Homo sapiens: one gene and its partners. The protein of the gene in region 4 purifies or fractionates together with the protein of the main gene of each other region. This does not show direct contact. Each region holds a gene or a part of one and is shown on either strand. Other genes may lie near its edges.

The links.
Region 1: the proteins of NELL2 (region 4) and ZNF101 purify together in Homo sapiens (affinity purification with mass spectrometry; 2 studies listed by BioGRID and IntAct, with this or other methods). This does not show direct contact.
Region 2: the proteins of NELL2 (region 4) and EMILIN2 purify together in Homo sapiens (affinity purification with mass spectrometry; 2 studies listed by BioGRID and IntAct, with this or other methods). This does not show direct contact.
Region 3: the proteins of NELL2 (region 4) and POC1A purify together in Homo sapiens (affinity purification with mass spectrometry; 2 studies listed by BioGRID and IntAct, with this or other methods). This does not show direct contact.
Region 5: the proteins of NELL2 (region 4) and ZNF627 purify together in Homo sapiens (affinity purification with mass spectrometry; 2 studies listed by BioGRID and IntAct, with this or other methods). This does not show direct contact.
Region 6: the proteins of NELL2 (region 4) and PAX3 purify together in Homo sapiens (affinity purification with mass spectrometry; 2 studies listed by BioGRID and IntAct, with this or other methods). This does not show direct contact.
Region 7: the proteins of NELL2 (region 4) and ZBTB40 purify together in Homo sapiens (affinity purification with mass spectrometry; 2 studies listed by BioGRID and IntAct, with this or other methods). This does not show direct contact.

Annotation. Positions count from the first base shown.
Region 1 is NC_000019.10:19,671,203-19,675,790, forward strand, and holds part of ZNF101 (zinc finger protein 101), read left to right. Parts: intron 1-3,980; exon of another isoform or gene 3,981-3,996; coding exon of another isoform or gene 3,997-4,098; intron 4,099-4,201; exon of another isoform or gene 4,202-4,588. UniProt on the Homo sapiens protein: May be involved in transcriptional regulation.
Region 2 is NC_000018.10:2,912,474-2,917,059, reverse strand, and holds the end of EMILIN2 (EMILIN-2 precursor), read right to left. Parts: intron 3,994-4,586; coding exon 3,656-3,993; 3' UTR 1,057-3,655; downstream 1-1,056. UniProt on the Homo sapiens protein: May be responsible for anchoring smooth muscle cells to elastic fibers, and may be involved not only in the formation of the elastic fiber, but also in the processes that regulate vessel assembly. Has cell adhesive capacity.
Region 3 is NC_000003.12:52,146,842-52,151,429, forward strand, and holds part of POC1A (POC1 centriolar protein homolog A), read right to left. Parts: intron 4,331-4,588; exon of another isoform or gene 4,260-4,330; coding exon 4,175-4,259; intron 3,147-4,174; coding exon 2,975-3,146; intron 2,549-2,974; coding exon 2,369-2,548; intron 255-2,368; coding exon 147-254; intron 1-146.
Region 4 is NC_000012.12:44,778,369-44,782,956, forward strand, and holds part of NELL2 (protein kinase C-binding protein NELL2 isoform b precursor), read right to left. Parts: intron 1,655-4,588; coding exon 1,481-1,654; intron 1,392-1,480; coding exon 1,295-1,391; intron 1-1,294. UniProt on the Homo sapiens protein: Plays multiple roles in neural tissues, regulates neuronal proliferation, survival, differentiation, polarization, as well as axon guidance and synaptic functions.
Region 5 is NC_000019.10:11,616,559-11,620,236, reverse strand, and holds the end of ZNF627 (zinc finger protein 627), read right to left. Parts: intron 3,543-3,678; coding exon 2,348-3,542; 3' UTR 1,076-2,347; downstream 1-1,075. UniProt on the Homo sapiens protein: May be involved in transcriptional regulation.
Region 6 is NC_000002.12:222,218,708-222,223,295, forward strand, and holds part of PAX3 (paired box protein Pax-3), read right to left. Parts: exon of another isoform or gene 2,681-4,588; coding exon 2,515-2,680; exon of another isoform or gene 2,379-2,514; intron 1,846-2,378; exon of another isoform or gene 1,689-1,845; intron 1,648-1,688; coding exon 1,433-1,647; intron 1-1,432. UniProt on the Homo sapiens protein: Transcription factor that may regulate cell proliferation, migration and apoptosis. Involved in neural development and myogenesis. Transcriptional activator of MITF, acting synergistically with SOX10.
Region 7 is NC_000001.11:22,457,749-22,462,336, reverse strand, and holds part of ZBTB40 (zinc finger and BTB domain-containing protein 40), read right to left. Parts: intron 1-4,588. UniProt on the Homo sapiens protein: May be involved in transcriptional regulation.

The DNA of each region.
Region 1 (4,588 bases), on a different chromosome or scaffold from region 4:
GGAATTTGTGATGGTGGATAACTCTGTTCTGTTTTGTGTTATCTGGATTTGACAGATTAACGCTGAATCCTTTGGGATAAGTTTGGCAACATCTAGAAGTAGTCAGATATGATCTTTTGTTTACTGAATAGTTTATTATGGAAAAAATACTGAATGACATCTGAAAGTGATAGATACTCATCTCTTTTCCTAAGGATACTAATCTGTACTCCTAGGTCTCTCTCATGATCTCATGTAATCCCAGTTATTTCCCAGAGTTGCTGCCCGTAATATTAATACCATCACCTTAGGTGTTAGGATTTTTTTTTTTTTTTTGAGACAGAGTCTTGCTCTGTCGCCCAGGCTGGAGTGCAGTGGCGCGATCTCGGCTCACTGCAAGCTCCGCCTCCCGGGTTCACGCCATTCTCCTGCCTCTGCCTCCCGAGTAGCTGGGACTACAGGTGCCCGCCATTACGCCCGGCTAATTTTTTGTATTTTTAGTAGAGACGGGGTTTCACCGTGTTAGCCAGGATGGTCTCGATCTCCTGACCTCGTGATCCGCCCGCCTCGGCCTCCCAAAGTGCTGGGATTACAGGCGTGAGCCCCCGTGCCCGGCAGATATTTTTCAACGTATGCTTTTTACATCATAATCATTTTATTCACGAGACATTTTCAGACTTCAAGAAAAATTTCAGTAGGCTTTGTTCTTTTCTAAAAATTGACTTCAACGGCTTGTAACAGCAATTCAAGATGAACTGAGGGCAGGAACACTGGCAAACACCTGTAATTCTAGGTACTTGAGAGGCTGAGGCGGGAGAATCGATTTAGCCCAGGAGTTCAAGTCCAGCCTGGGCAATATAGTGAGACCCCCATCTTAAAAAATGTGTGTGTGTATATATATATATATATAAATTATATGTATGATTATATATATATTTATAAGTTGTATGATTATATATATTTATAAATTTTATGTATGATTATATATATATTTATAAATTTATTTATTTTATTTTTTTACTTTCGAGACAAAGTCTTGCCCTGTTGCCCAGGCTGGAGTGCAATGGTACAATCTTGGCTCACTACAACCTCCGCTAAAGTGATTCTCCTGCCTCAGCCCTCCCCCACGCCCGGTAGCTGAACCCGGTAGCTGAATCCTGAGTAGCTGGGATTACAGGTGCCCTCCACCACACCTAGCTAATTTTTTTTAGCTTTAGTAGAGACAGGGTTTCGCCATGTTGGCCAGGCTGGTCTCGAACTCCTGACCTCATGGTCCTCCTGCGTCGGCCTCCCATAGTGTTGGGATTACAGGCGTGAACCATCACATTCAGCCCTATATGCATTTTAGAACGGGCTTTTTTTTTGGCGGGGGGGGTCTCTGTTGCCCAGGCTGGAGTGCGGTGGCACGATCTCAGCTCATTGCAACCTCTGCCTCCCAGGTTCAAACGATTTTCCTGCCTCAGCCTCCCAAGTACCTGGGATTACAGGCACCTGCCACCACGCCCAGCCAATTTTTTGTATTTTTAGTAGACACGGGGTTTCAACATGTTGGCTAGGCCAGTCTGAAACTCCTGAGCTCAGGCAATCCTCCCACTTCGACCTCCCAAAGTGTTGGGATTATAGGCATGAGCCACTGTGACTGGCTGGTATTTTTATTTCTGAAAAAAGAAAACAAAACAAAAAAAACCAGACATGGGATTTTGATAGGGATTGTATTGAATTTGCAGATCATTTTGGGTAGTAGTACCTTCCAAATAATGTAAAGTCTTTTTTTTTTCTTTGACACAGAGTCTTGCTCTATCACCCAGACTGGAATGCAGTGGCACGGTCTTGACTCACTGCAACCTCCACTTCCTGGTTTCAAGCCATTCTCCTGCCTCAGCCTTCTGAGTAGCTGGGACTACAAGCGCATGCCACCACGCCTGGCTAATTTTTTTTTTTGTATTCTTAGTAGAGATGGGATTTTACCATGTTGGCCAGGCTGGTCTCAAACTCCTGACCTCAGGTGATTTGCCTGCCTTGGCCTCCCAAAGTGGTGGGATTACAGATATGAGCCAATGTGCTGGCTTTTTTTTTTTTTTTTTTTGAATTGGAGTCTTGCTCTGTCGCCGAGGCTGGGGTTCAGTGGCATGATCTCGGCTCACTGCAACCTCCACCTTCTGGGTTCAAGCAGTTCTTCTGTCTCAGTCTCCGGAGTAGCTGGGATTACAGGCACGTGCCACCACACCTGGCTAATTTTTGTATTTTCAGTAGAGACAGGGTTTCATCATGTTAGCCAGGCTGGTCTTGAACTCCTGACCTTGTAATCCACCCACCTCGGCCTCCCAAAGTGCTAGGGTTGCAGGCATGAGCCACCGCACCTGGCCAAATAATGTAAAGTCTTCGAACACATGAACACAAGATATTTTTCAATTTGTCTTTAATTTCATTCAGCAACATTTTGTTGTTTTTAGTGTACAAGTAGTCTTTCGACTTCTTGGTTTTGTAATTTCTAAGCGTTCAATTCTTTTTTTTTTTTTTTTTTTTTTTGAGACAGAGTCTCACTCTGTCGCCCAGTCTGGGCTATTTGGTGTCCTGGGTTTTATATTTGTTGAGGCTTTTTAAATTATTATTATTATTATTATTATTTTGAGATGGAGTCTTGCTTTGTTGCCCAGGATGGAGTGCAGTGGTGCGATCTCAGCTCACTGCAACCTCTGTCTCCTGAGTTCAAGCGATTCTCCTGCCTCAGCCTCCCAAGTAGTTGGGATTACAGGTGCCTGCCACCGCGCCCGACTAATTTTTGTATTTTTAGTAGAGACGGGGTTTCACCATCTTGGCCAGGCTGGTCTTGAACTCCTAACCTTTTGATCCACCTGCCTTTGCCTCCCAAAGTGCTGGGATTACAGATGTGAGTCACCGCGCCTGGCCTATTCAATTCTTTTTGGTGCTATTGTTTGTGGTATTGTTTTCTTAATTTCTTTTTCACATTATTCAGTTTTGGTGCATATAAATGTAGCTGACTTTTTTGGTCTTGAGACAGTCTACCTCTGTTGCCCAGACTGGAGTACAATGGTGTGATCTCAGCTCACTGCAACCTCTGCCTCCTGGGTTCAAGTGATTCTCCTGCCTTAGCCTCTCGAGTAGCTGGGACTACAGGTGTGGGCTACCACACCTGGCTGATTGTGTATTTTTAGTAGAGATGGGGTTTCACCATGCTGGTCAGGCTGGTCTTGAACTTCTCACCTCAAGTGATCTACTCGCCTCGACCTCCCGAAGTGCTGGGATTACAGGCGTGAGCCACCGCACCCAGCCCCATTGTTTTTCATATTTGAACCATCCTTGCATTTTGCGGATAAATCTCTCTTGATGATGTCATATAATCCTTTAAATATGCTGTCAGGTATGATTTGCTAGCATTTATTTGAGGATTTTTTGCATTGATATTCATAAAGGGCATTTGTAGTTTTGTTTTTTGTAGTGTCTGTCTTTGGTGTCAGCATAATTTTGACCTCATAGAGGGAGTTTGGAAATGTCCCCTCTTCAGTTTTGGAAGAGTTTGAGGAGGATTGATAGCAATTCTTTTTTAAATTTTTGGTGGATTTCAGCAGTGAAACTATTTGGTGTCCTGGGTTTTGTATTCGTTGAGGTTTTTAAAATTATTATTATTATTATTTTGAGATGGAGTCTCGTTTTGTCGCCCAGGATGGAGTGCAGTGGCGCCATCTCGGCTCACTGCAACCTCTGCCTCCCAGGTTCATGCCATTGTCCTGCCTCAACCTCCCCAGTAGCTGGGACTACAGGTGCCTGCCTCCATGCCAGCCTACTTTTTTGCGTTTTTAGTAGAGACGGGGTTTCACCGTGTTAGCCAGGATGGTCTCAATTTCCTGACCTTGTGATCCACCCTCCTCTGCCTCCCAAAGTGCTGAGGTTACAGGCATGAGCCACCGCGCCCAGCCAATTTATTATTTTTCTTAATTTATTTTATTTTTTTGAGATGGAGTTTCACTCTTGTTGCCCAGGCTGGAGTGTAATGGCATGATCTCGGCTCACTGCAACCTCCGCCTCCCGGGTTCATGGGATTCTCCTGCCTCTGCCTCCCAAGTAGCTGGGATTACCGGCGTCCACCACCATGCCCAGGTAATTTTTTGTATTTTTAGTAGAGACGGAGTTTCACCATGTTGGCTAGCCTGTCTCGAACTCCTGACTTAAGGGGATCCACCCACCTTGGCCTCCCAAAGTGCTGGGATTACAGGCATGAGCCACCGTGCCTGGCTATTTTTTTTTTATTACTATGCCAATCTCCTGCTACTACAGCTCTGTTCAGATTTTTTGTTTTTTCATGACTCAGTCTTGGTATATTGTGTATGTGTAGACATTTGTCCACGTAATCAGTTATATAATTTACTGAAGTATTCTAAAGGACTTCTGAAATTAAGCCTGAGTTGTACAGTTTTTTGTCCTCTGCTGTATGTATGTATTCTGCTGCTGTTGCTGTGAGTGTAAGGGGTGAGGTGAGGGGAATCATTCTATTGACCTATGACTTAGCCTCATTTAAAGATAATAGGCCGGGCACAGTGGCTTATGCGTGTAGTCCCAGCACTTTCAGAGGCGAAGGTGGGCAGATCGC
Region 2 (4,586 bases), on a different chromosome or scaffold from region 4:
TTTGGTGCAGTGTTTGATGTTCAAAACAAAATGTTACAACAATAAACGAACATAACATAAACTGAATGCATTTGGCTCTTTTCTTCAGGGGACATTGAAACCATCTTTCTAGATTCTTGCCAGAAATTGGTAATTTCCATAAATTAGCATCTTGATCTTTGCTGACACTTAAATTTGTCTACAGCAGGAGCTCCTTTTTGTTGCTTATTCTTAAAACCTGGCTTCAGAAGTGCAGCTACACCCCCAGGAACTAACCTCTTGCTTTGTACCTTCTGCCAGGAAATGACCCATCCATATGTGACTTCTGCTGTGGTCTCACGGCTGTCCAGGAGGCTGTGTTTACCTCCTCTCCCTAAGCACTTGAATTCCCTGGGAGTCCTGTCCAGAGCCCCTGGACACCCCACCTTTCCTTAAACCCTTCCTTAGGGTGGGTATGATTTAGCAGTCAATCCTGATGTTTTCATCACAGAGTCAGAGTGACCTTTGATCAAAACCACATCGCATATATTACTTACATGGTGATGTTTTGTCCTCTCAGATTGCTGGGCCCTTACCAGATGCAGCATATGCTGAACCCTGCATCCCAAAGGCCCTCCACAGGAGCGTGTGTTCAGGATGGAAATGTTTGTTTGCATGACGTGATGGCAACCATGGGTCTTTGGGAATGCAAAAGAAGAGCTCAGGGAAATTGGTTACAAAGGAAATGGTCTTTACCCAGAGCAGCTTTGAGGGCTTCAGGGGAGCAGTGAACTTTGCATACCTGAGCTCTGAGGACGTGCCTGCGTGTGGCTTCTCTCTGTTTTGCCCCGCACCCATTGGAGTTGGCATGTGTCCTTCCATTTTCTTTCCCGTTTATAGGATGGCATAAGGAAAATACACATTTATCTTTAGAAAGGGGCTGTGGTGTGGATTGGATATGTGCAAAGCTGGGTTTCCAAGCTTACAGGCATGAACGAAGTGACTCCAATCACAAATACTCCCTGTCAAGCTGCAAATACATAAACTGTGAGAAAATTAGTCACCTGGGAAAGCTAGATTAACATGCCAACCAGGAAGTAATTTCAAATGCAGTTTAAGGTTTGCATTTATTGACGATACCATTTTGTTTTTAATCGTGTAAATGAGGCCATTTGTTAGTGTTACATGGAGGTTTGGAGGGGATGTCACAGTCCTTCTCTACTTAAGAAGTGTCCTGACCTTTTCTCAGCAACAACTTGATATCAGAAGTTGTGAACTTGGCTGGGCGTGGTGGCTCATACCTGTAATCCCAGCACTTTGGGAGGCCGAGGTGGGCGGATTGGCTGAGCTCAGGAGTTCGCGACCAGCCTGGGCAACACGGTGAAACCCCATCTCTACTAAAATACAAAAAATTAACCGGGCGTGGCGGCATGCACCTGTAGTCCCCGCTACTCGGGAGGCTGAGGTAGGAGAATTGCTTGAACCCGGGAGGCGGAGGTTGCAGTGAGCTGAGATCGCGCTACTGCACTCCAGCCTGGGCGACAGAGTAGGACTGTCTCCCCCCAAAAAAAAAAAAAAGTTGTGAACTTGTGCCTGATTCTGTCTCAGGGTTTGGTATGCCTCTGACTGACTCGCAGGCACTACTTCAGGGGTGATGACTTCTTGAAGGGCTGCTTCGAACCCCACAGCCTTAAGCTCAGCTGACCTTGTTGTTCTACTACCTGTACAAAAAGACAGCCTTTCCCTTTCTAAAGATGTCTCCTAAGTGGGCCAGGATCCACCTGTCATCCAGCTTTATCTCAAAGTAGAGGCACGCTCCAGCCATAATGAGGCATATTCTGTTTTGCCTGTCTTGAATACACAGAGCTGAGATTCACCATTGTTGGTGAGTAGAGATGCACTGAGAGGAGGACTGGGTTTTACCCGATGTTCCAGACCCATCTACGGAGTAGGGAAAGCAGCAGGTAGTCATCACCCACCTTTTGCCTGGGCCCTGCCCCTGCAGCTCTTGAGCACGTCCCCTTGGGCGCCGAGTGCGGTCTTTTCAAAAGGAGCGTGAGAGGAGAGGAGAGGGCGATGGCGCGTGCCCACTGGGTTTTCCTGAAAACACTGCTGCACTGGGGCGCTTTCCATGAGTCATTCCTAGGACAGCCAAGGATACTCTCTGACAGCTCTCTTTAGCCAGTTCCCCAGCTGTTGTAATGGGGTGAGATGCCATTCTCCCTCCCGCTCCTGGACAAAGAGGTCCACATTTTAAATAGTAAAACGGCAAACCTTTAGTTCTTGCTGGTCTTCCTAGCTGTGGCGGGGGGAGTAAATAAGGAACTCTGAAGTGTCCAGTGGCCACCCTGTAAATTCATTTGCAAACAATTCTTAAAGCATTTTTTTTACAGCATAAGAGCATCTTGTGGGCCAAGGAAACTGCAGCTCTTGATTCTACCGTCCAAACCTTTCCCCAGTGGGACTTGATTAACCAGTAGGTGTTACCAACCTGATCCACAGAGACTACCTTGAACTAAGGGTGCTGAGAGGTCTCCGTGGCCACTGGTGACAGATTGATACTCCCGGGCCTCCCCTCAGTGGAGGCGTCTCGCTGTGTGAAGATGCCGTGTTCTCAGATGGGCTCAGCTGTCAGCGTGTGGCCAGCGTTAGGTTGAGCTTCCTGCTGCTTAGAAACCCAAGAGCTCGGCGAGCTGTGTCTGCTGGAGATTGGTGCAGTGAAGCAGCAGGGATCAAGTTAGCCTGGGCAGCTGCTGTGGGATCTGAGTGCAGCATCCCCAGAGGAGCCGCTCCAGCTGCAGATGACATGGGGCCTTGACCTCCGTGCACATCTGGTCCGTCTTCACAAGCCAGAAACAAAACCCAAGTGTATAGCTTGGATGCGGAGGGGTAACAGTTTTGTAGCTGAGATTAATTTTACTCAAGGTTACTTTCTGTAGCCCTTTTTGAAACAAAACATTTCTTCAGTTTGCTTTTTAGCAACAACTCCCGATCTGTAAGGGACCACACTTAAATTAACAAAAGTTAACTGGAAATGGCTTTCCATCTTTATTGACACTCCCTGTCTTTGCACTTAAATTGTACATGCCATTTAAGGAGCCCAACAAGCTTTGGGAACAGTCTCTAACGCATCCCTATTTGCAGCTGGGCGAAGGCCCGCCTGAGCAGGTTAAGTCCCAGGCGGCAATGGTGAGCCAAGCGTGGAACAGCCCAAACTAAAGTCGGGGTCTCTGTGCGGCGGCACGGGCCACTTCGGCACTTCAGTGTTTAAACTTCTGCATGCAGTGTAAAGACAGACAGCTGGCCACAGTGCTGCCCTGCAGTAAAGACCAGCCACCGTGACCGGCTCTCCCCTGCCTCCCTCCTCCCAGCCCACAGTCAGACGGAGCCTCTGTGGCAAGCTCAGGCCCAGTCCAGGGCCCTCAGAGTGTAGATACAGGTGGAGGCCTTTCCAAGTCTTCCAGTTGTCCAGTTAGAGTGGCAGAAAAGTCAGTGGCCATGTTCACCGTGTGCCTCACTCCCTGCAGCCTGGCTGGATGCAGTAAGGCATGGTGGCCTCAACAGCGAGGGAAGGCCTTTATGTTGGGGCCTATGTGGAAACTCTAGCCCCGTGCTTCCATTACATACAAACCGAATATATTAAAGCTTTAGAGTTTTTACAACTATCTATCTTTCCCCTGACATCTCCCCAGCCACCTTAGAGGTGGGAAAGGAAAGGATATAAGAAAACCCCACTAAATGTGGAGTACATTTCATCAAAGTCTGTGTGAGCCAGCTTGCCCCCAGTCACCACGACGTTGACTGCATCTCCCGCCTTCAGGTGCACGATGAGGTGGAATGCCCCCGGGCCCCCGCAGGTATGCAAAGCTCCTGGAGGGCGGTGGTATTCCAGGAACTCTCTCCTGTACCCAGCGGTATGCAGCTGGGCCACGCTGGCGTTGGAGACCGACAGCACTGCTTCCACGTAGGCGTCTCTCTCGGGGGTGAGGGTGGCCGTGATCAGGTAGCGCCCATCATAAGGAGCCGTGAAGACCCCTGCGGGGAGAAAGGCAAACCCTGTGCTCACCTGCTGTCGTCACAGCCCTTGCCATGGTAGTAAGTGGCCCCCCAGTGATTAACCTGGGCCTGGGAGACCAGCCATCTCTGTCTTCCCATGGTAGCTGGCTGCCTGCCTCAGCTGCTTTTTATGCTCATCCCCTACAGCCTACCCGTGATGCAGAGGCCACCTTAGCCCATACCACTTTTTGCCATGGGCCTAAGAATGCCTCTTGGAGGCATTCCTTATTGGAAGCACCTAAAGGCTAAAGTCAGCCTCAAAGCTTGGCTGCTGGGCAGAATACCCGGGAGGCAGGGCCAATAAAAACGAAGCTTGCCACCAACCCAGGGAGAGGCAGACATGGCACCTTGTAACCCCAGGGGCCATGCCAGGCTCCTCGTGGAAGAGGCCCATTCTCCCCATGCTGGGCAATGGCCAGAAGTGAGCACTGATACTCAGCCCATGACCCACACGTTCTGGGCCCAGGGTGGGAAAGGAAGTGGTGGCCAAAGGTGAGGAAGGTGGAAAGATCTGTACATGTCACAATTCGCTAAGCAGAAGCAGCTGTAGGTGGCCCCACAGCTAGGAGAGT
Region 3 (4,588 bases), on a different chromosome or scaffold from region 4:
CGCAAAAAGCACCAGACAAGGGGCAGCAGTGATAAGGCTGCTGGTCCCACGGCTCCAGCCACTGAAGGCCACTGGGCCTCCTCATGCCCAGGTCTGTGCTCTGTGCTTGAGCGCCTACAGGTGGAGGACAGCATCTGGGGACTCACCCGCCATGCTCACAATACGAGTGGACACATTCCCGGCTGCTCTTGTCCCACAGCTTAACAGTCTTGTCATCACTGGCAGACACGATGAGCCGCCCGTCGGGGGAGAACCTGAACCGGGTGGGGCACAAGTCACATCACAGACTAACAGACGACATGGGCACCACACACCTTCTTCCACAGCCACTCTTCCCCGAGTGCCTACTATCTGCCTGCAGGAACCACCCGGGGTCACATGCCCTGCTGTGATTTTTTTTTTTTTAATTTGAATACCCTAATTTGTCTTTTCAGGAACAAATGCATTGCATCCTAGGAGGCAATGTTACTTCTGTTTATTTGGTCATATCTTAAATTATACTTTGTTTCTGAAAATAGTTAACTTTTAGCACATCATTTTTCTTTTTTCCTTCTGAAGAGTTTTTCAGGAAACTGTGACTAAATTTTGTTTTTGTTTTTGTTTTGTTTTTTAGACAGGGTATTGCTCTGTCACCCAGGCTGGAGTGCAGTGGTGTGATCTCAGCTCACTGCAGCCTCTACCTCCTGGGCTCAAGAGATCCTCCCACCTAAGCCTCCTGAGCAGCTGGGACTACAGGCGTGCACCACCACACCCAGCTAATTTTATTTTATTTTATTTTATTGTAGAGATGGGAGTCTCACTATGTTGCCCAGGCTGGTCCTCTAACTCCTGGAGTCAAAGGATCCTCCCACCTCATCCACCCAAAGTGCTAGGATTACAGACATGCACCTTCAAGCTCGGCCTATGACTTAATTTTAAATGTTATAAAAATGTTTCCTTTATTTTTTTCTTCCTGAATCTGTGAAACTTATTGATCTTTCCTGTTGCTCTTGTTTTCGTTTTCTTACGTAGCTTCATGAGCAAATAGCCCCTCTCCCATCCCAACAGCAAACTCTGACCAAAAGGGAAAAAGAGAAATTCTTCCTGACTTAGAGGAAAACCAAACATAAATAAACAAAAAGAAAAGAAAAAAAAAAAGGTGCCTGCCTCACGAGTGAGCACAGAGCAGCCTCATGCACATAAAGCCCCAGCACTGCCCCTGACGCACAGCACATGGCAACATGCAGCCGACTGCCTGCCGGCAACATTTGCATAAAGGTGGCCAAAAGCTCACCATCAGTGTCATTACTCTGGGACCAGGTCCTCCGAGTCTACATTTGACTCAAGTGCGGGTCAGCAAGACACAATCTGCCAACAAAAGGCATGAGGTCCTGGGGACTGCCACCAAAGGCCCAGTATGGACTTGACACCCCAGTTTGCTGGCCTGGCCCCTCCTGATCTCAGGACCCTAGTCATAAAGCCTCTAAGAGCCATCAGGGGTCTCCCAGGACAAAGGAATGGGGGTGCCCTGGAGAACAGTAACTTGTATGGGGTCCCCAGAAGAACACAGCTCAATAGTCCCCAACTTCTGACTCATGTGGTTTCCTAATGTCACCTGGCACCCCAACCCCTTCCTCTGAAGCAAAGATATTTGACCCATGGGGAAGCTCTGTTGAAAGGAATGAAATAAGCTAGAAGTAGGACTATCTGTCTGCAATTCTTGGACCTTGAAAGGTCCTTTGGGTTACCTGGCCCGCTGTCTGCACAGCACTGGCTCCCTGGCCAGCAGGAAGGCTAGCCTCCAGGCTAAGCCCCCCATCTCCGAAGCCTGCGCCCCCATCTGGGAGCTCTGGAGCAAAATCATCCCCTGAGAACATCCCAGAGGAAAGTAGGCAAGCCTTACTGTCAGAGAGAGTTGGGTTCAAACTCCAGCTCTGCCACAGACCCACCGTGTGCTCTGGGACAAGATACTACTGTTCTGAGCCCCCATTTCCTCATCTGCAAAATGGAAATGCACCTAGCTTGCAGAACTGTCTTAAGGAACAAAAAGAAAATGTGTAATGGTAGTACTGAAAGTACCTAATTGTTTTTGATAATAAATGGCCCCTGTTGACCCAGTTTGTGCTTTGCCAACACAGATGTCAGAGGGTCATCATGGCTGACTATGGACTAACTTACATGTCATGCATCAGCTCCATGAAGCTTCTCGACAACTTACAATGCAGGAGCTATTATTGTTCCATTTTACAGATAAGGAAACCGAGGCTGAGGAAGCTTAAACAATGCCTAAGTAACTTGCCCGAGGTCATAAGTTGGTACCTAGCAGCCCCTGGGCCAGCCCCCAACCCCCAGGGTTCCTCCAAGGGTCTCCAGACAGAACAATGCTCACTTGGCACAGCGGACCCAGTTGATATGCTGGCTCAGGGAGAACAGGAATTTCTGGCGATGAGTTGCCCACACTTTGACTGTCTTGTCGTCAGAGGCTGTCACGAAGGACTGGCCATCACTGCAGAAGTGGACACTCCTCACTGTGGCTGTGTGTGCACGAAACACAGTGGACTCACCTTTGCTACAAGGACAGGCATCCAAGAGTAAGGAAACCCATAACAGTGACATGAGAGCCCACAAGCACATCAAAGCTCTCCTACTCCTCAAGCACCCCTCCCAAAGTCAGTCAAGCCCGAGTACCCCAGTCTCCACAAGGGAAAGCCAGAGCCTCTCCTATATGAACAGAGCACCATCTCTAGGCCCCACCCACATGAACACAGCATCAGGTGGCATTTCTTTAGGGATAGATTGGGTAAGCCCAGAACTCCTCTTCCAACCCTGAGGGGAGGGCTCCAACTGCAGCCCCAGCCTCTGATGGCACCTCTTCCAAAGCAGAGTAGAAGTCCCACTGTGACCAGTCCAGAGCCAAGCTAGGGGACCTGGGTGGGGATGGCTCTGGCACCAGGGCCCCAGACTCCAACAAGCCTCCTCAAAGTGTACGACTCACACATTGGGTACCCAGATGCGGACAGTCTTGTCTCGGGAGCCGGAAGCAAGCAGGTGTCCCGAAGGAGAGAAGTTCACACAGGTGACGGCATCCTTGTGGCCAGTGAAGCGGTAGGCGCGTGACTGCGGCTTCATGTGCCAGACCATGAGGCATGAGTCCATGGAGCCACTGGCTGAGGACAGTGGGTGATGCTATGACCTACAGCTCTAACAGGCTTCAAGCCTCCACCAAGACATTGGAGAGGCAGGGGGAGCAACTGGCCCAGCTCCATCTTCCCTGGCATCCACAAACAGACCGTGAGAAGTCTCCCATGGAGCAGAGCACATCTCGAGGTATGGTCTGGAGGTGGAGAGCCTGTGGCCCAGAGTTCTCCAAGGAGCACACCCACATGGGAATAAGACCGAGGCCCTTCCCATGCTAGCCTTGGACTGCAATCCAGAGCTCTGGGAAAACTCATTCCCATGGGGCCCAGGGTCTCCCCCCAGACACATCCTGAGGGCACCAGAGAGCAAGTCCTCCCCAGCTGGGAAGCCAGCCCCTCCCATTGAGAGGGCCCAACTCAGTATGAAGCCTAAAGGAGGTCCCCAAAACTGATCAAAAATCACTTCAGTTCCCTCTTAACCTTTACACATCAGAGGGTCTTGATGACAGGATGAAGGGGCAAGCCTCCTCTGCAGGAACCAGAAAGCGCAGTCATAAAAGCTGTGTACGAAACCTCATGCAACCAAGGAAGGGGGACAGTCAGCTGCAGCATAAGAGCAGTGGGGTCGAGGGGGGTGCCCATCTCTGCTCAACAGCCTTCTCACTGACAAGGCTCTTCAACAAGGTGTGCCTTATTACTGTGGGCAACAGAATCAGTAAAGCTTCAAGGAAAAGGAGTCACTGTTTAGGGCCCACACCAAAAGACAGACCCAAAAGGTGGCTAGGGTGTGCAGAAAAGACCCAGATCCCAGTCCCACCCTCAAAAGCTCTGTGGCCTTAGCAAGGCCCCTAACCTCTCTGACCCTCAGGCTCTGCATGTAAAATGAAGCTCATGAAGCCCAGTGCCCAAAGAGCTGGCAAGCAGAAGCAAGACTAGAAGCAGGTCTAGACAAAGCTGTGCAGTCCTTGTGCTCTGCTTCCCACCCACCACCCCTCCGAGGTAAAAACTTGGCCTGTTCAGCTCATAACCTAGCACCTAGACAGGGTGCCTCTTCTTACCCAGCTGCTTTGTGTTGATACTGAAGTCCACACAGGTAACTGCATCTCGGTGGCCCTTAAAATGCCTTTCCAGCGAGGGGTCCTCCTGAGAGAGAGCCAGGGTCAAATGTGTGAAGCCTGGGTGAGGAAGGGGCTTCCCCAGGGCCAGCACTCTTCCTACAACAGCCGGGGGAGTAGGGTTAAAAATGCTCAAGGCATGATCTTATATAAAGAAAATCCTAAGGAATCCACTTAGGATTAGTTTTTACTAGGAATAGTTTTTACTATTTGAATTAATACATCAACTGTGGAAATGCTTCAACAAAAACAAAAAACAAATGAGTTCAGCAAAGTTGCAAGATACAAAATCAAGACACAAAAATCAATTGTCTTTCTGTACACTAGCAATGAATAATCCAAAAAATAAAACTATTT
Region 4 (4,588 bases):
AAATAAATTGTGTACCAACTCCTATCACTTAGAAGCAGCAACATAAAAACAAGGCTATCGTGTACGGTTATATAGTTTATGCACTGTACAACTCTAATGGATACTATTTATGGACTACAATAAAGAGAATGACCCCCAGAGTTGTACACATAATTGACATGTGGAGATTTTGAGGCCACACTTAGGCTCCATGGGAAGGACTGTCACGATTAAATAGAGATGAGATTTGGGACTCACAGCACACATCTGCTATCCCTTACCTGGGAAAAGCGCATGGTTTTAGGATTTGCAAGCATGGAACCAATTTCCTATTTGTGTCACTTACTATTTGCCTATCTTTAAGCAAGTTACTTTACCCCTCTGTGCAGGTTTATGCATAATAAAACAGAAATAAAAAATGACCCTGCATCAAGACTAGCAAGGCTACTATTAGATGGAATCATATATTTCAAGTATCTGGTTTCCTGGTAACAGGCAATGCTTAAATAAGTTCCCAAAACACCTTTATAGAATTATAAACTTTGCTTAGAAAACAATTAAATTCACTGGTATGTGATCTACCTTGAAATCTATGAGTTGAACTATCACTTATCATTGTTTGATTTGGTAATCATTCATCGAGCCACTTCCATGTTGTAGGGACTGTCATAGCCACTGGGGGAAAATGATTGCACTATGGGCTTGTAGTCAAGCAATTCTCTGGACTTTATTTCTTCATCTTTAAAATATGGAAAGTTAAATGACATGTCCCTTAGAGCCTCTCCAATGAAGAAATTCTATGAAGTGTTGTCTCCAAGTACATATTAAAGGAAAAGATATAAATTATAACTGCTTTCTCTTTTGACAGATTTGTGCACATATGTGTATTCCTTTCTCACTTTCTGCAGTACAAGGAGACCATGAATAATATATACTAAAAAGCTTTCAATCCGCTATTAACATCTTTGTAAAAGTATCATCAAAGGTTATATTTCAGTGGTGGAGAGTTTATTTGTATGTTAACATTTTAGATTTTTATTGCTTTGAAAGGTTAATTCAAAGAATGACCTGTTAACTGCCCTGATTGCAGCCTTGTGATCATTTCTGTAATATCTAACAATTAAACTCATTGAAAAAAGAAGAGAAAATAATGTTTGCTGGCTAAAATATTACTGTTTAAAAAAATGAAACAGACACAAATTTTCTAATTTACAAATCAAATTATTTTGTTTCACACCATAAAAAGTAAAATCTACTTTTTGAAACTCATTAGAAAGCATTTACATTTCATTCTCAGACTTTTGCCAAAAGATACCTTAAAATATCCATGCGCATTATTTCTCTGTCCTAGCCAAAATGTTGTGCCTAGAGGCAAGTCTGTGGAGGGCTTTTCTACTACCCTTTCATAAATTCTGCAAAAAAGAAACATCAAAGAAGGAACGTGAGTAGACAGTCATTTCTTAGAATCTTCCATTTCCTAAAATGAGGACACTACACTTACTTATTGCAGTCAATGTGTAAAATCAAATGGGAAGCACTGATGGCTAAGGAGAGCTTGTGCCACTTGTCATCAGCCAAAATGTAAGGAAACACTTCTGTGTGAGGGCGGTGACTGCCTGAGCGGTAATGCAGTCTGACTTCATTCCGATGGCCACTACTTTCCAGTTCCAGGTACCTGCAGAGAGAAGAGCCACATGGGACACATTAAAAATAAAGTTCAAAAACGATTGAAGTGATCTCTGTCTACGGGATGGAATAGATGTACTTTTCCTAGTTCTCCCACTAAGTACAACTAGACATCATATACAAAACAAACACAGAAGAATCTAGAAGATAGAGAAAAAAAGATATTCAGGATCCAAGGAACAATATGGTAGTGAGTTCAATGGGTTTCCATTTTGTGTCATATATCCTGGACTTGGAGCTAAAGAAGGCTTCAATCTGGAAATATCAATGAATGTAGACCTAAAAAATCCTCAAGATGAGCCTGCTTTCTCTAGCTGAAGAACAAAGAAAGGATCAGTCTAGCAAGACAGAAACTGCTAGATAATAATCTCTCTGTTCCAGTCAAACATCACAGAAAAAACTGGCCCCATCCCAAACCATGCCAAACAAAAGCTAAGTAAGAAGCTTATATTTCTACCCTGTTCAAGCAGAAATGAGGCATGTAACACCAGAATAGTGTCAGAGAAGGCCAAGTTTAGAGCCAAGAATTTTAACCCTCCCAGGCAGTAATGAGGCCCCCCACAGCACTAGTGAAGACCATACAATGAGGAGCCTGGACTTCCATCTCATCTTGGAAGTAATGAAGCACACTTCCCTTTCCCCGCTGGGATAGTATCAAAGGAAGCCTACTAAGGAGTCAGGAGTTTTATAGTCATCCAGCAGTAATGAAACCACCCCGCCACAGTGCCAGCAGAAACCATATAGGAAGCTGAAACTTCCCCCAACTCAGAAATAAAAGAAGCTTCCCCCTCAACTGTCAACAAAGGCAAGTGGGGAATCTAGACTTCTACCTCCACCTGGCAGTAACAAGATGGCACCCTCCCTTCCCCTGACAAAGCAGTGTCAGAGAAAGCTGGCTAAAACAGGCGGGTTAAATAAGATTCAAGTCTCAGAACATGATACAAACATGTCCAGGTTTCAGTAAAAAATCATTCATTATACCAAGAAGCAAAGAAATCTCCAACAGATTGTAAAAAGAAAAAGAACAGATATCAAGACTAAAATGATAAGGATGTTAGAATTACCCAACAAATATTTTACAGCAGCACTGACAAAAACAATTATGAAAAGACTTAAATGAAAAAAATAGAAAGTTTCAATAAAGAAAAAGAAAAATGGGAAAAAAAATTTAAAACCAAATAGAAACTTCAGAACCAAAAAAATACAATAATGGAAATGAAAGCTCAGTGGATAAAGCTAAACAGCAGAATGGAAGTGACTGTGAAAAGAATCAGTTATCTGGAAGACAGAAAAAAAAGCATCCAATGTGACAAATAGAAGATAGACTGAAAAAAAAGTTGAACAGTCTTAAAGAGCTGTGAGATTATAACAAAAGATCTAACATTTGTATCACTAGCATCCGAGAAAGAGAGGAGAAAGGAGGCGAGCTTAAAAAACAATATTGAAGAAATAATGGCTGAACACCTCCCAAATTTGGCAAGAGATATAAACTCACAGATTCAAGAATCTAAGGAAACCCTAAACAAGATAAACTCAAAACAATTTTCAACTTCATATCAAGCCATATCATAATTAATCTTCTGAAAACTAAAAACAAAGAAAAAATTTGAAAGTAGACAGAGAAAATCTTGCACATTAAGTACAAGGAAAAATTAGAGTGACAGTGTGTTTCTCAGTAGAAACCATGGGAGCCATAAAGAAGTGGTAAAATATTTTTCATGTGACAAAAGCAAAAAGAGCTGTACACGTAGAATTGTATACCCAGCAAAAACATCCTTCAGGAATGAAGAGAAATCAAGACATTCTCAGATAAAGGAAAACTAAGAGAATTTATCATGAGAAGACCTATTTTAAAAGAACAGCAAAATAATGACCTCTAAACAGAAAGAAAAATATAAAATAAAAAGCTTTGGAACATCAGGAAGGTAGAAAGAACATAGTATGTAAAAAAGAAAAATGGGTAAATACAATAAGCTTTCCTTCTCCTCTTTTCTAAAGTATGTTTGACAACTGAAGCAACAGCTCAAAATTGAAGCAAAAGAGTCTGTGTCCTAAATGTATGTTAAACAATATTTAAAGAATTTATGTTATAAATGAGTGAGGGTAAAGAAACATAAAGACAGCTAAAATTTCTATACATCACTCAAACTGGTAAAATGACTATACGAACAATCAGTTATAAGTTATGTATATATAATGGAATACCTACAGCAACCACTTACAAAGCTATACAAAGAGACACACTCATAAACATACAGATAAAATGAAATTGTAAAACAAGTAACCCATGGTAAGAAAAAAAACAGAAAAATAAAACAGAGAGAACAAACATAAAATAAAAAATAAAGTGGCAGACTTAAACTCAAGCATATAATTTTATTAAAAGTAAATAGTTTACATGCATCAATTAAAAGAAAGAGATTAGCAGAAGGGATTAAAAACCATGACCATATTCTGTTGGTAAGAAACTCACTTCAAATATAACAGTCTAGGCAGTTTGAAAGTAAACAAATAGAAAATAATATATATTGAAACTATTAATCAAAGGAAAGCAGAAATGGCTATATTAATTTCAGAAAAATATATTTCAGAGCCAAAAAATACCAAAGACAAACAGAAATGCTATAAAAATGATGAAAAAAATCAATCCATTAAGAAGACATAGCAATTCTCAATGTGTATTACCGAAAACACAGAGCTGCAAAATATGTGAAGCAAAAACTGATAGAATTGAAAGAATACATGGTAAAATCCACAATTACAGTTGCAGACGTCAACACCCCTGTTTCAACAATTATTTGAACAACTAGCCAAAATGTCAAGAATATATAACTCAAAAATACCATCAACCAACAGGATCCACTCAACACTTATAGAACATACCACTCAACAACAACAGAATACACATTCCCTTCAAGTTCCC
Region 5 (3,678 bases), on a different chromosome or scaffold from region 4:
GAGATTGCACCACTGCACTCCAGCCTGGGTGATAAGAGTGAAACTCTTGTCTAAAAAAACAAAAACACAAAAACAAAAACAAAAGCATATTATTGGAGCAAGAAAGGCTTGGTTGGAATATTGATGCTGACTTTGTTCCCTTCCTAGGCTTGCATTCAGAAAATGTGCATAAATATATTAGTCTCATTAGACTCGTAAAGGAGCTTTTTAAAAGTATTATACAGCTTGCTAAGAAGTAAATTTACATATTTTAACTGAGGTACATAATGGAAAACAGTGTCCAGTACATCACAGGAAATACTTCAGTGTTCAGAGAATAAGTAAGGCAAAAACAGGTCCACAAGTCCAGGAGCCAGCCTCCGCTCACTGCAAGGCCAAGTCTTACGCTGTTGGAGAGAAACATGTCAGACACCAGCAATGTGAGACCATGCTCCTAGGTGGCTATGATGAATCAAGACAAAAAAAGGGCATTCTGTAACCATGTCTTTAAAACTGGTGAAAGACAGCATGTTCCAAATCATAAACATGACCCAAATTCCCCTCTTCTCACTAATATGACTGAGTGGTATTTCTCATGAATTACGTTTACCTCCACTCCATTCCTTTTCCCTTCTGGATAAGAACAGTTATGATTACCAAGTTTAGAATTAAGTTTACCTCATCACTGCATCAAATACAGAGAATCATCTTGCTTCCCTGAACATAAATCAATCAACCTGGCCAGGTGCGGTGGCTCATGCCTGTAATCCCAGCACTTTGGGAGGCCGAGGCAGGTGGATCACGAGGTCAGGAGTTTGAGACCAGCCCGACCAACATGGTGAAACCCCGTTCACTACTAAAAGTACAAAAATTAGCCGAGTGTGGTGGTGTGCACCTGAAATCCCAGCTACTCTGGAGGCTGAGGCAGGAGAATTGCTTGAACCTGGGAGGTGGAGGTTGCAGTGAGTTGAGATCGCACCACTGCACTCCAGCCTGGGCAACAGAGCAACACTCTATATCAAAAAAAAAAAAAAAATAGAAATCAACCAACCTATAACAAGCACAAAACCTGTAAGAAATTCTTCTGAGCACCCTCTTACTGATACATCACACAGTCCTTTATGGTTTGTGGTCATGATTATTATTACAGTTTATTACACCCTCTTTGACAACAGGTATGGTCTCTGCGGTCTTTAGCAAGAGAGCACACAAAACAGCATGACTTAACTTTTGGTATTATGAGTAGATGAGAAATTACTATGAAGATAAAAGTTGAAACTATATAAGCATGAAAAGTAAAATTTACATGAGGAGGAAAAAATTCCTTAAGTTGTATGCACATGGTTAACGCTGACTTCACAGTGTCTTAACAATTTGCCAAAATTATAAACTTGATGTAATCCAAGACTGAAGACAGTTAATAAACTGTTTTGAAGAAACATGTACAGAAGTCTTGTTTGAATAAAAAATACATATTAGTCACATATAATCAAACAACTGAAAATGAACTGAGGCATTACATTGAGCTACGAATAACAGGAAACACTTGAAATTTCCTGATAGAGGAAAGTGCTCATTCTCACATCAAAGTCCTGGGTGAGGCCAGTCACTGCACACTACAGCAGAAGAACAAGCTCCCCTCTGGTTGGTTTTGACAGCAGCATGGTAGCTATCAGGCTGAATCAAGAATACAGTCACTACTAGTATGAACAAAGGTGCTTACTACACAAATTAGACCGTATGCCAATTCCGTCTACAGACTAGGGGAGTCAGAGCATCACAGAATATTCCCAACCAGGACAGTCTGAATTAGTTGCCTAGTACAGACATAATAATGTCTGAAGGAAAACCAAAGTGTGGATGGATATTCAATGCAGGGCTTCTGGAGACCTGTGTGGAAGCCTATCACCTCCGAGAAAATTAAAGTCAAGTCGTTTTGAGGATACTCTTGATTGGCAACCCAAAGAAGCAGGAAAATGGGATGGAAGCAAGTGTCCATACAGCCTGTATTCACACAGCTGTCTCCCTGTATGGTGCTTCCAAACCATGACTAATGCCTTCTTAACTTACTTCCGAATCTCATGTAAGATAGGTTACTGGTGAATTGTATCATGGAATCACAAATGGAATGGATTCTGGGAAATCTAGTTCCTAACCTACCAACACTGACATAACACAATCCAGAGATCCAACTCCAACTCTAGGTTTTACTGTCCTATCACAAGTCTCTCGTAATTTAAAGCCAATTATCTTACAGGGTCTTTCTCCACTGTGAATCCTTTCACGTAGTTGAAAGAAACAGAAAGGACTGAAGGCTTTCCCAAATTTCTTACTTTCATGGGGTTTCTCTATGTGACTCCTTTCATGCTCATGAAAGAACTGGGACAACTGAAGCGTTAGGGTTAGGGTTCTCATAGGGTTTCTCTCCAGTATGAATTTTTTCATGTACTCGAAAGTAAGTGGATCGACTGAAGGCTTTCCCACATTGCTTACATTCATAGGGTTTCTCTCCAGTGTGAGTTCTTTCATGGATTCGGAAGTAACTGGAACGACTGAAGGCTTTCCCACATTTTGTACATTTATAGGGTTTCTCTCCAGTGTGAATTCTTTCATGTTTTCGAAACGAACTGGAACAACTGAAGGCTTTCCCACATTGCTTACAATCATAGGGTTTCTCTCCAGTGTGGGTCCTTTCATGGATTCGAAATGAACTGGGGAAATCAAAGGCTTTCCCACACACCTTACATTTATAAGGTCCATTGCCAGTGTGCTTTATCATGTGTCTTCTAACACTTGCAAGACAAGTCAAAGCCTTCCCGCATTCCTTACATTCAAAAAGTTTCTCTCCGGTGTGAGTCCTCTCGTGACTTCGAACAGAACTGGCGCACCTAAAGGCTTTACCGCACTGTTTACATTCGTAGGGTTTCTCTCCTGTGTGAGTTCGTTCATGGATTCGAATGTACTTGGAACAACTGAAAGCTTTCCCACACTGCTTGCATTCATAGGGTTTATCTCCAGTGTGAGTCCTTTCATGTATTCTAATGTAACTGGAACAACTGAAGGCTTTCCCACATTGCTTGCATTCATAAGGTTTCTCTCCAGTGTGACTTCTTTCATGTATACGAAATAAACTGGGATAATCAAAGGCTTTCCCACACACCTTACATTTGTAAGGTACACCTCCCCTATGCGTTAACATGTGTCTTCGAATGCTTACAAGAGAAATAAAGGTTTCTCCACATTCCTTACAATCATAGGGCTTTCCTCCAGGATGAGTCCTTTCACGTACTGGAAAAGAGCGATGATAACTCAAGGCTCGTCCACACTGGTTACGTGTATATGACTTCTTTCCATATTCCTGATATTCATTTGGTTCACGTCCAGTGTGATCTCTGATGTGCCTATTAAGTGATGAAGGACCCATGCCAACTTCTCCACACACACTGCTTTCACACGGTTTTACTCCAGGAGTTTTCTTGTTCAGAATACCATCTGGAATCTGGCTGAAGGTTTCTTCACCTTGACCACCTTCTTTACTTTCACAGAGTCTCTCTGGAATATGACTTGTCAGAAAAATGAGAAGTACATTATTAATGTTTTGTTTATAAATGATTTTATATTTATTAATAGGTATTAGACTTACATATACTTGTTTTTAAATACAGAGACAGAATCTTACTATGTTGCCCAGGCGTGAAC
Region 6 (4,588 bases), on a different chromosome or scaffold from region 4:
GCCAGTACTTGGAAATAAAATGTATTAAAGTCCTGTAGGAAGCACTTTCATTGTTTTCATGTTGTTATTTTTCAGCTGAGGTTTAAAGCCACCTCATAATTTTTTTTTTATCCCAGGATGTGCTATAGGAATCTATGAAACTTAATTACATTTACTGTTACAAAAAAGGATTTATGAACTTTTGCCTTTAGGCGGAAATGTTTATTTCATTGCCTTTGCTATCCATTCTTTTCAACTCCTCCGGCTTTGAACTTTTCAGCTGCTCACAGTTATCACTGTCTTGCAGAGCCCAGGAATTCCACTCCCAAGACACACACCACAAGTTGAAGAAAACGAAGAGGCAAAGATATACGAGTCGTTATTTTGGCCACCCTTTGTGCCATTAAAATCTCATTTTCTGCCTATTAGAATGCCCTCTTGGTGCTTAGGCAGCGGTGATAGTCAGTGATTAGTGTGTAATTGAGTATAATTGTCTTTTCACTTTTCATTTGTGTCATTCTGAGCTTCTCTCTGTTTTTCTAACCACCAAGAGGAAAAAGGGGGTTGAGAACAGATAAAGCTGTTCAAACTCTCTGAAGAGATTCTCGATTGCAATTATAGATTGCAACCCCTTGTGACATTTCTCCAAATTTAGTGGGCAGCTATCCTTGCCACCTGGGCCAAGCACTCTCTAATAAAATCAAGGGATCTGTATTTAAACAACTGCTAATAATGTCAACCTCAGACAGATGCCACATGTAGGAAATTTAACCAACCCTCTCACATGCAATTATCAAGGCAATTTATTAATGTGATCTCCTAAGAAAAGCTCATAGTCCAATGCAAATTAGAAAAACAATTACAACATTCAAATATTTATATAGTCCCAAAGAGCAGTAATTCCCCTAATTTGTGCATTTATAACTCGTTTATTCCAGAGTTCGTAGTCATCAGCTGGGTCTCTCTCCACAGGACTTGTTTGCTTCCTCTCTGATTGTTTTGTCAAAGCTTTAGTGTTTTCTTATGAGGTGCTTTTGATTGAAACCTCATCAATTTAAAACCTTATCAATTGATTGAAACCTTATCAATTTTAAATACAATTTAAAACAAAAAAACAAAACAAAAAACCTGCCACTGTTTGCAAGCTTCTTAACCAAAGCCCAGAACTAGGATGGAGAAGACAAAACATGGCAAACACCTTCACAGCTAAATATGAACACAAAGTCTCCAAGATTATATCAAAAATCACTTGAATTTTAAGTCTAAGCTACAACTTTTGATGAAGCCAGTAGGAAGGGTGGAGAGAAAGGAAACCAGAAAACTGAAATCATGTGGCTTCTATAAAGAATACATTATGGTTTAAATTTGGCAATTCATTACACTACTGCCTCAGGGAATTGAATATTTGGTTCTGGTATACAGCAAATCGTCTGTCTAGAAACACGGGACTGACCTGAGGTGAGAGGCCATTGCCAATGGTGGGGTTCATGGGGTTGGAGGGCCCCGACGGAGGCACAAAGCTGTCTGTATAGCTGGAAAATCCATGCCTGGTGCTGGGGAGGCAGTAGGCAGAGCTGCTGTCTGGGTTGGAAGGAATCGTGCTTTGGTGTACAGTGCTTGGAGGAAGCGGTTGAGGTCTGTGAACGGTGCTGCTGGGATCTGACACAGCTGAAATGAAAAAGATTGTCAACCATCATGTTTTCTTTTAGGCCAGCAGAGAAAGTTCAGTGCAAAAGTTCATCAGCCACCAGGCCATCAGGAGCATCTATTGATCAAATCAAATGTTCACTTCAAACTGCGTTTCTTAACCTGCAGGTGTAGAATCACCCATAACAGATACAGTCACACCTATCTCTGCACATACTTGTAAGTAACATATATACTCTCACGGCAGGCTCACCCAGAATACTAATGCAGAAATCATATTAGCAATGCTAACAAGCATATTTTGGTAGTGAATGTTATTCATCAATATGAGAATTAACCAATATAAGGACTGCAAGTCTCAAATTTCTTATCAAATATACTTTTAAAGCACCTAAATATTTGTGTAATAATATAGTTTCAAATGCCTGGAATGTTCTTTCATAATCCAAAATAATCGGATCTTACAATTTAACATTATCCCATTCACCTCTGTGTGCTAACAAATAATGACTTTGTCAAAGCTTACCTTCCCTCTATTATTCCTACAGTTAGTAAGCATCATTGAATTCCAGTTAGTTGCAAACTGGAGTAAAACGTAGAGGTAAAATTTTAACAAAAGAAAAGCAAATCCCATGGTTATTTGGGAAGGTTAATTTGTTTTAAAATACTGCAATTGAATTATATTACAGCACAGTTTATCTAGAGATATTCTGATACATCATAGAACAAACTATGTTTCTGAAATGTGATAGGTACGTTCAGGACAACCTGATGTATTACAATTAACAACATGGTGTCAGTACTGCAGAAGGATTCACTTGTATAAAATATCCACCAGAGAAATCGCCTGGAAGTTACTTTCTAATCTCCTTGACTCTTCCTCGGTACCTTGTGGAATAGATGTGGGCTGGTAAGAGGTCTCCGACAGCTGGTACGTTGGCAAGGTCGGCATGGCAGTGGGAGGGAACCCCCCGGGAATGAGATGGTTGAAAGCCATCAGTTGATTGGCCCCAGCTTGCTTCCTCCATCTTGCACGGCGGTTGCTAAACCAGACCTATGGATTTAATTTAAAATTTAAGGATTTCACTGATGAAATAATAGTACATTCTTAATGAATTTTTTATGCTAAAACAGATTAGAGGCTTCTTACTGAAAGGGCAAATAGATGCAAGAGTTCTCTGCCTTCTGTGTTGTTTGGGCGAATTGTCAGGAGTAAAAGAAGAGTTTAGTGTCAAAGGTCAGTAGAGGGGCTTCAGGGACCCACCATGATCTTGCAACAACAGCCCCCATGAACCTTATGAGGACCATGGGCAGGAATCACTGAGCAGGAGTAGGAACAACAGGAACTCCCCTCCCTACCCTCAACATCCACCCACCTACGTGTAGACAGCCTTCTGGGGAGGATACATGAGCCTCTGTGACCCCTGCATGACGCATGTCCTAAATGTGGCCTTGCCTTTTACTCCAAGCCTTGTATTTTATATTCTTATTAGTCTGTCTCTGTATTTCTGTGGTCACTAGGGGTATAGCTTCTGGATGGTCATATAAATTGAACAGAGGATAAGTGGAGCCCTTTTTTCATCTCTTCCAAAATATGAAACATTGCACTGATCTCGGTGGAAATAAATGCCAAAGAGGTAAGTGTTTCAAGAAATGAAAGCCTTTTTTTATCTAAAATAATTCATTTGTGTCTTATTTATTTCAACAACAGCTTTAAGCTCCTAGAACACGCTGTGTCAAGCACTATGCTAACCAGGTACATTCAGAAAAGCCTGATACAATATAATAAAATGCCCTCAAATAATTCAAAGCCCAAGTATTTTGTATGAGTCAATGGAGAGAAAGGGCAGTCATGGCAGCAAGAAATGTAACTGAATATCTAAACTATTGAGAAATTGTGATATAAGGCCTTTCATGGGTCCTGTGCTCCTGCCCAACTCTTACATCTGCAAAGTTTAAATGTAGAACTTGGGGTGATTTTTCCACGGAGCACACATGATGTTTCCCCTAAAATGAGAGAGGATTTCTACCAACTAAAGATATTCTAATTCCTACATCAAAAGTTCATTGAAACTTTTTTTTTTTTTTTTGAGACAGTCTTGCTCTGTCGCCCAGTCTGGAGTGCAATGGCGGGATCTCAGTTCAACCCAACCTCCGCCTCCCAGGTTCAAGGGATTCTCTTGCCTCAGCCTCCCCAGTAGCTATGATTACAGGCACCCGCCACCATGCCCAGCTAATTTTTGTATTCTTAGTAGAGACGGGGTTTCACCATGTGGGTCTTGAACTCCTAAGCTCAGGTGATCCACCCGCCTCGACCTCCCAAAGTGCTGGGATTACAGGCGTGAGCCACCCATTGAAACTTAATATGGAGGAAAGCACTGTGTTTGGGGTTGGAAGGATATAAAGGGAATCAAGTAGGATCTCTGCACTCTGGTAGTTTGATGCCTTGTCCTCATGGGATTCACAGAGCAGTCAAGGAGACCAAAATAATTGCTCGCTAGAGGTAGAAACTTCACATTTGGAAGCACAGAGAATCAGGAAAACTCTAAAGTGGAAGCAAAAAGTTTCAGCTCATTTTAAAATTTGATTCTAATTTCGACGAGCGATCGCTTGAGATGGAAGTGACATCCATCCTGTCCTACAGGGCAGGCAGATGCAGCTTGTTACAGGAGGCCAGCTTAAGAGAAGATGAGAATTGATTTCCTTACAGAGCAATGTTAACAATTTTGCAACTTAATTGTAATTCTTAAAGTCAGATCATTTAAGAGCGGAGGAAAAGATTTTTCTGGAGAAGAAGCTCAATTTAATAAATCCTTTGCCGAGGGATTTGCTCAAACTTTTGGTACTCACCCAAGCATTTGTCTGAAAAGAGTTTTGTCTTCTCTCGCCATTGTTGCAAGATACTGGTAAGGAAAGCTGTTTGAACTTCCTCAAAACATCAACATTTAATACTCCTTAAGTT
Region 7 (4,588 bases), on a different chromosome or scaffold from region 4:
GCCTAGAGAGATTAAATGACCTGCCCCAAATCACAAAGCCAGTGAGTGGTAGAGTCAGTCAGTGAACTCATGCTGTCTGACTCTAGAGCCGAAACTTTGACCACTGAGTGATACTGCCCAAACTTTAAAATTTAAAAAGTGGTGAAGTTCTTAACCTTAGATTCTTTCTCCTACTTTTTTGATAACTTCCCTGTTCAGAGGCATTACAAGGATACCCTATTAATGAAGTGGTTTTTAAATAAGAACAGATAATGGAGATGTAGAGCCTACTTATTCTGTGCAGGTGAGACACCGCACACACATTCCTCAACCCTCCCTGCCACTTCCTACTTGTTCAAGGCTGTGCACCTTGGTAACAGGGCAGCTGAAGGATGTGGGAGCCCATGTGGCCCCAGTGTGACCCCAAGGCTGTGTCCCAGCCCTATCAGCGAAAAAGATGTGCTTGTCAATCCAGCAGATTGTCACTGAGCTCAGCCGAATGACCTTAACTGAGGCTTGGCACTACACAGAGAAGAAATTCAGCATAATCCCTGCTCTCAAGGAGCTTATGGCACAGCTGGGAAGAAGAGACCACTTTCAGCTTAAATCCTTCTTTCCTCACACTTTTGTAGTTAAGTACCAGAGCACTGAAGAGACTACAGACCCCCAACTTCCAGCAACACTGTCCTATCACACTACTCAGATCACTCAGCCTTCAGTACCCCTCTGTGTACATTTCACAGATCAACTCCTTTCTCGTCTCCTCCTAGTGTTATAAGCTTTTTCTTTTGTCTTTGAAGAAGTGGGAATTATTTTCATCTCTCTATTTCCCTCCATCACCAGGGAGTATGTCAAGAGGGTTAACTTAAGGAGCTAACAAAAAAACGTAAAAGAGGATAACTTCTCTATTGCTGTTAATGTTGGGAAAGAGCCTATGGGATTCTATAGTATTTGCTCAAAAATGTTCAAAGGAATATACGGAAATTTCATCCTCAACATTTTACTGTCCAGAAAAAAAAAAAAAAAAACAACGGAACTCTAGGGGCCAATTATTCTGCTGTCTTGGACTCTGACCTTAGCCAGTCTCCCTCTGGTTTTAACCTGACTACAACTGAGGAGAACTGACAGCAGAGTACCAACTGAATGAGCAGCTTGTGTCTAGAGTGGTCAAACTGAATGACTTCAGGCCTTCAGAGCAACATTCAAAAGTAACAAGTACCATGCCAAACTTATATGCTAAATGATTAAGAGCAAGTTTCATTGTTATTTAATTTAAATATATTGGTTCCCACTATGTTCACGACATCATACTAGGAGGTAAGTATTCAAAACAGTGGCAAGCCTTTGAAAACCAACCAATATCAGATTGTAGTAATACAACTAGAGAAATAGAAGACAGAGTGAGAAGAGCACATGAGAAGCAGTAAAGGGGGAAAGATGGGAGGGTTTACTGTCTGCAGTGAGTAGAGAAGGAAGTATCTGGGTGTGAATTCGTAGATGGGAAGACTACTATTAGAGTCTTCTATAATACTATACTAGTTTGAAGAGTGGGTCTTGACTCTCTCCTTTCCTTCTGCTCTTCCCTGGCCAGCTAGAGCCTAAAGTTTGAAAAACAATTTTTAATAAGGAGCTATAAAGAGTTGGGTTCTAAATCTGACGTTAGCTTTGTAACCTTGAGTTACTTAACCTTTCAAAACCTGTTTTCTCAAGGGTAAAATGAAGTTAACAAGTATATGGGAGCTCATAATGCTACTCTCACTTTTATATTTGCAAATTTTCTTAATTTTTAGAAACGGCAGTAATAATACCTATTGCTTAGTTGTTGTGAGGGTTACATGAAACAATACTGTAGAATACCTAGTACACTGCCTGGTATTTTGTATGTGTTCAATAAATGGTAACTATTATTATCAACATGATGTGAAATGTCATATAATGTTAAGACATGAATTATTATATTTTAATATTATGAAAATTTTAAAGTTCACCAGAACTTTTAAAAAAGTTTTGGAATGGAGGAAAGAGGAGAACCAAGTACTATGACCCAGTGAATCAATGGCTGCAGACTTAGAAATACAACAAGGATGACCTTTCCAAATAGAGTCTAACGGGCTCTCACTCTTTCACCCACCTTCATTCTCCCCTCACTACTTTATTCATCCATTCAGCAAATATGTTCTGACTGAACTGTACGCAGGACACAGTGCTAAGAGGTGAGAGTGAGAAAGAGATGAAGGTGGACAAAAGAAGGAGATTTAGGGAACAATATAATAGGATGAGCTTTAAGGGGGGAGGTATCAAGGAATAATTTGAAGTCGCATGCAAAATGTTTGGAATATGTGGGTGTGTAGAACTTCTCTAGGATCTTCTGGAGGGATTCTAAACAGAATTATTATTTTTTAAATGTTAAGAATAAAGGTCTAATAAACTGAAAAAGAAGCATACAGATTTTATATAAGGAAAAACATGTAACACTCCTGAAAAATCACCAAAGTAGCTTTGAGCAAATGAAAAGACAGACCATAATCTTGGATAGAAGAGTCAATATGGTAAAGATGCTAGTTCTCCCTAAGCTAATTTATAAAATGTAACACAATCCTAATAAAAATACCATCAAGTCATCTCCTCTTGAAACCAGACAAATTGATTATTAAGTTCATATGCCAGAATAAACAAGCAAAAACAGCCAGGAAAACCCTGAAAAAGAGCAATATTTTAAAAATTGGCCCTTCCAGATGTTAAATGATAAAGCCTCTAAAATTAAGATGATTTTGTAACAGCATATGAATTGGCAATCAAACCAATGGAACAAAACAGAAAATCCAGTAAGAAATCTAAATGCATACAAAGGCTTAGTATTCAATAAAGACAGCATCTCAAATCAGTGAAGAAAAAAGTTTTTAATAAGTACTGTTGAGACAACTGACTGGCCATTGGGATAAAGATAAAATCAGATCCTTCCTCAAACCAAATACTAAGATAAATTTCAAATGGATCAGAGTCTTAAATGTTTTTTAAAAAGTGAAATCATAAGCCTTACATGTACTAGAAGAAAATATAAATGGATGCTCCATAAATTGAGAGTGGGGCAAATATCCTAACTATGACTGCAAATCCAAAGCAATACACGGTAAGACTGAGAAACACAACTATATAAAGATATAAAACTTGGATAGAAATAAAACAATATATACAAAGTCAAGCATATGACAACTGGAAAAATATATTTGCAATCTGTATCACAGACATGATATATCCTTTATCTCATAAAAAGAAACAACAAATTTAAGCTATACTGAAATATTATTTCTTACCTGACAGATTGGCAAAACCCCAAAACTTTAACAGCATACTTTGTTAGCAAGACAGGAGAAACAGAGAAGAAGGGTTTAGGTATGAAATAAAAACTTCTTGGTAAAAAGGAATTTAATTTTTAATAGCAATCCTTAAAGTTTAAAACCAATGACAGCCTGGCACAGTGGCTCACACTTGTAATCCCAGCACTTTGGGAGGCCGAGGCAGGTGGATTGCTTGAGGCCAGGAGTTCAAGACCAGCCTGGGCAACATGGTGAAACCCCATCTCTACCAAAAATCATAAAAATTGGCCAGTTTCCTAATCCATTCTCAAAATTAATTAATTTTTTAAAAAAGTATTCAAGAAAAAGAGCCTGTTTATGAAGTTGGTGATACAACTACACAGAAGATAATTACATCAAGTGACTTTAAGACAATATCTGACTACACATCTCAAGTAGCATATATTCTAAGGAAAAAAGGAATAACAGAAAACCCAAACAGCATTCAGTAATATAAAGGTCAGTGTAGATAATGGCATTGCTACTGGCCTGGTTGATACCAGCAGCAGGGAAGTCCAGGGAGAGGGAGCAGCCTTGAAGCCTTGGAATGTGGCCCACTGGCCCCAGAAAGGATGAAGTCCTGTGGCCACTGAGAGATTTCAACTGGTGCTCAATATAAGGTGAATTGTGGGAGGAGGGGCTGCTCAGAGGCTTGAGAGACAGGCACAGCCACAGTTGGAGGGTAGCACTTGCTGGACCATCCTAAGGGCAGGCAAGCCATCCAAGAGTTTTAAAGCAAGGGAATCACATATTCCGATCTGTGCTTTATAAAGACCACTGGTAACAGTGTACCAAATAGATTGGAGAGGAATGAAGCTGAAAGCCACTGACCAACTAGAAGGCTGTTTCATAATCCAGGACAAGAGATTATAGCAACTCTAACCAAAGGAAGAGAAAGGGTAGAAGAAATCAACAGTCCTGTAGCCTAACTAAATATGTGCTGAAAGAGAAGATCATGGCACCATTCCCAGGTTTCTGCCTTTGGCAACTCTGTGGTGCCATCCACTGAGCCTAAGAACCAGGGAGAAGTACCAGGTGGAAGAAAGATGGCAAATTCACTGCTGCCAATGCCCTGGAGACCATCTTCTGGAGCTAATGGGGACAAGGAGCAAAAGGAGTCAAGAAGGAAAACTCAGGAAGACTCAATGGTCAGGCCCCAGTCCTAGAAAGCTGAGAAATAGGACGAAATTAGCAGGTTAGATTACCTCTTACAGTATTTTCTCAAAATAAGAAATAGAATCACCTACCGTTCA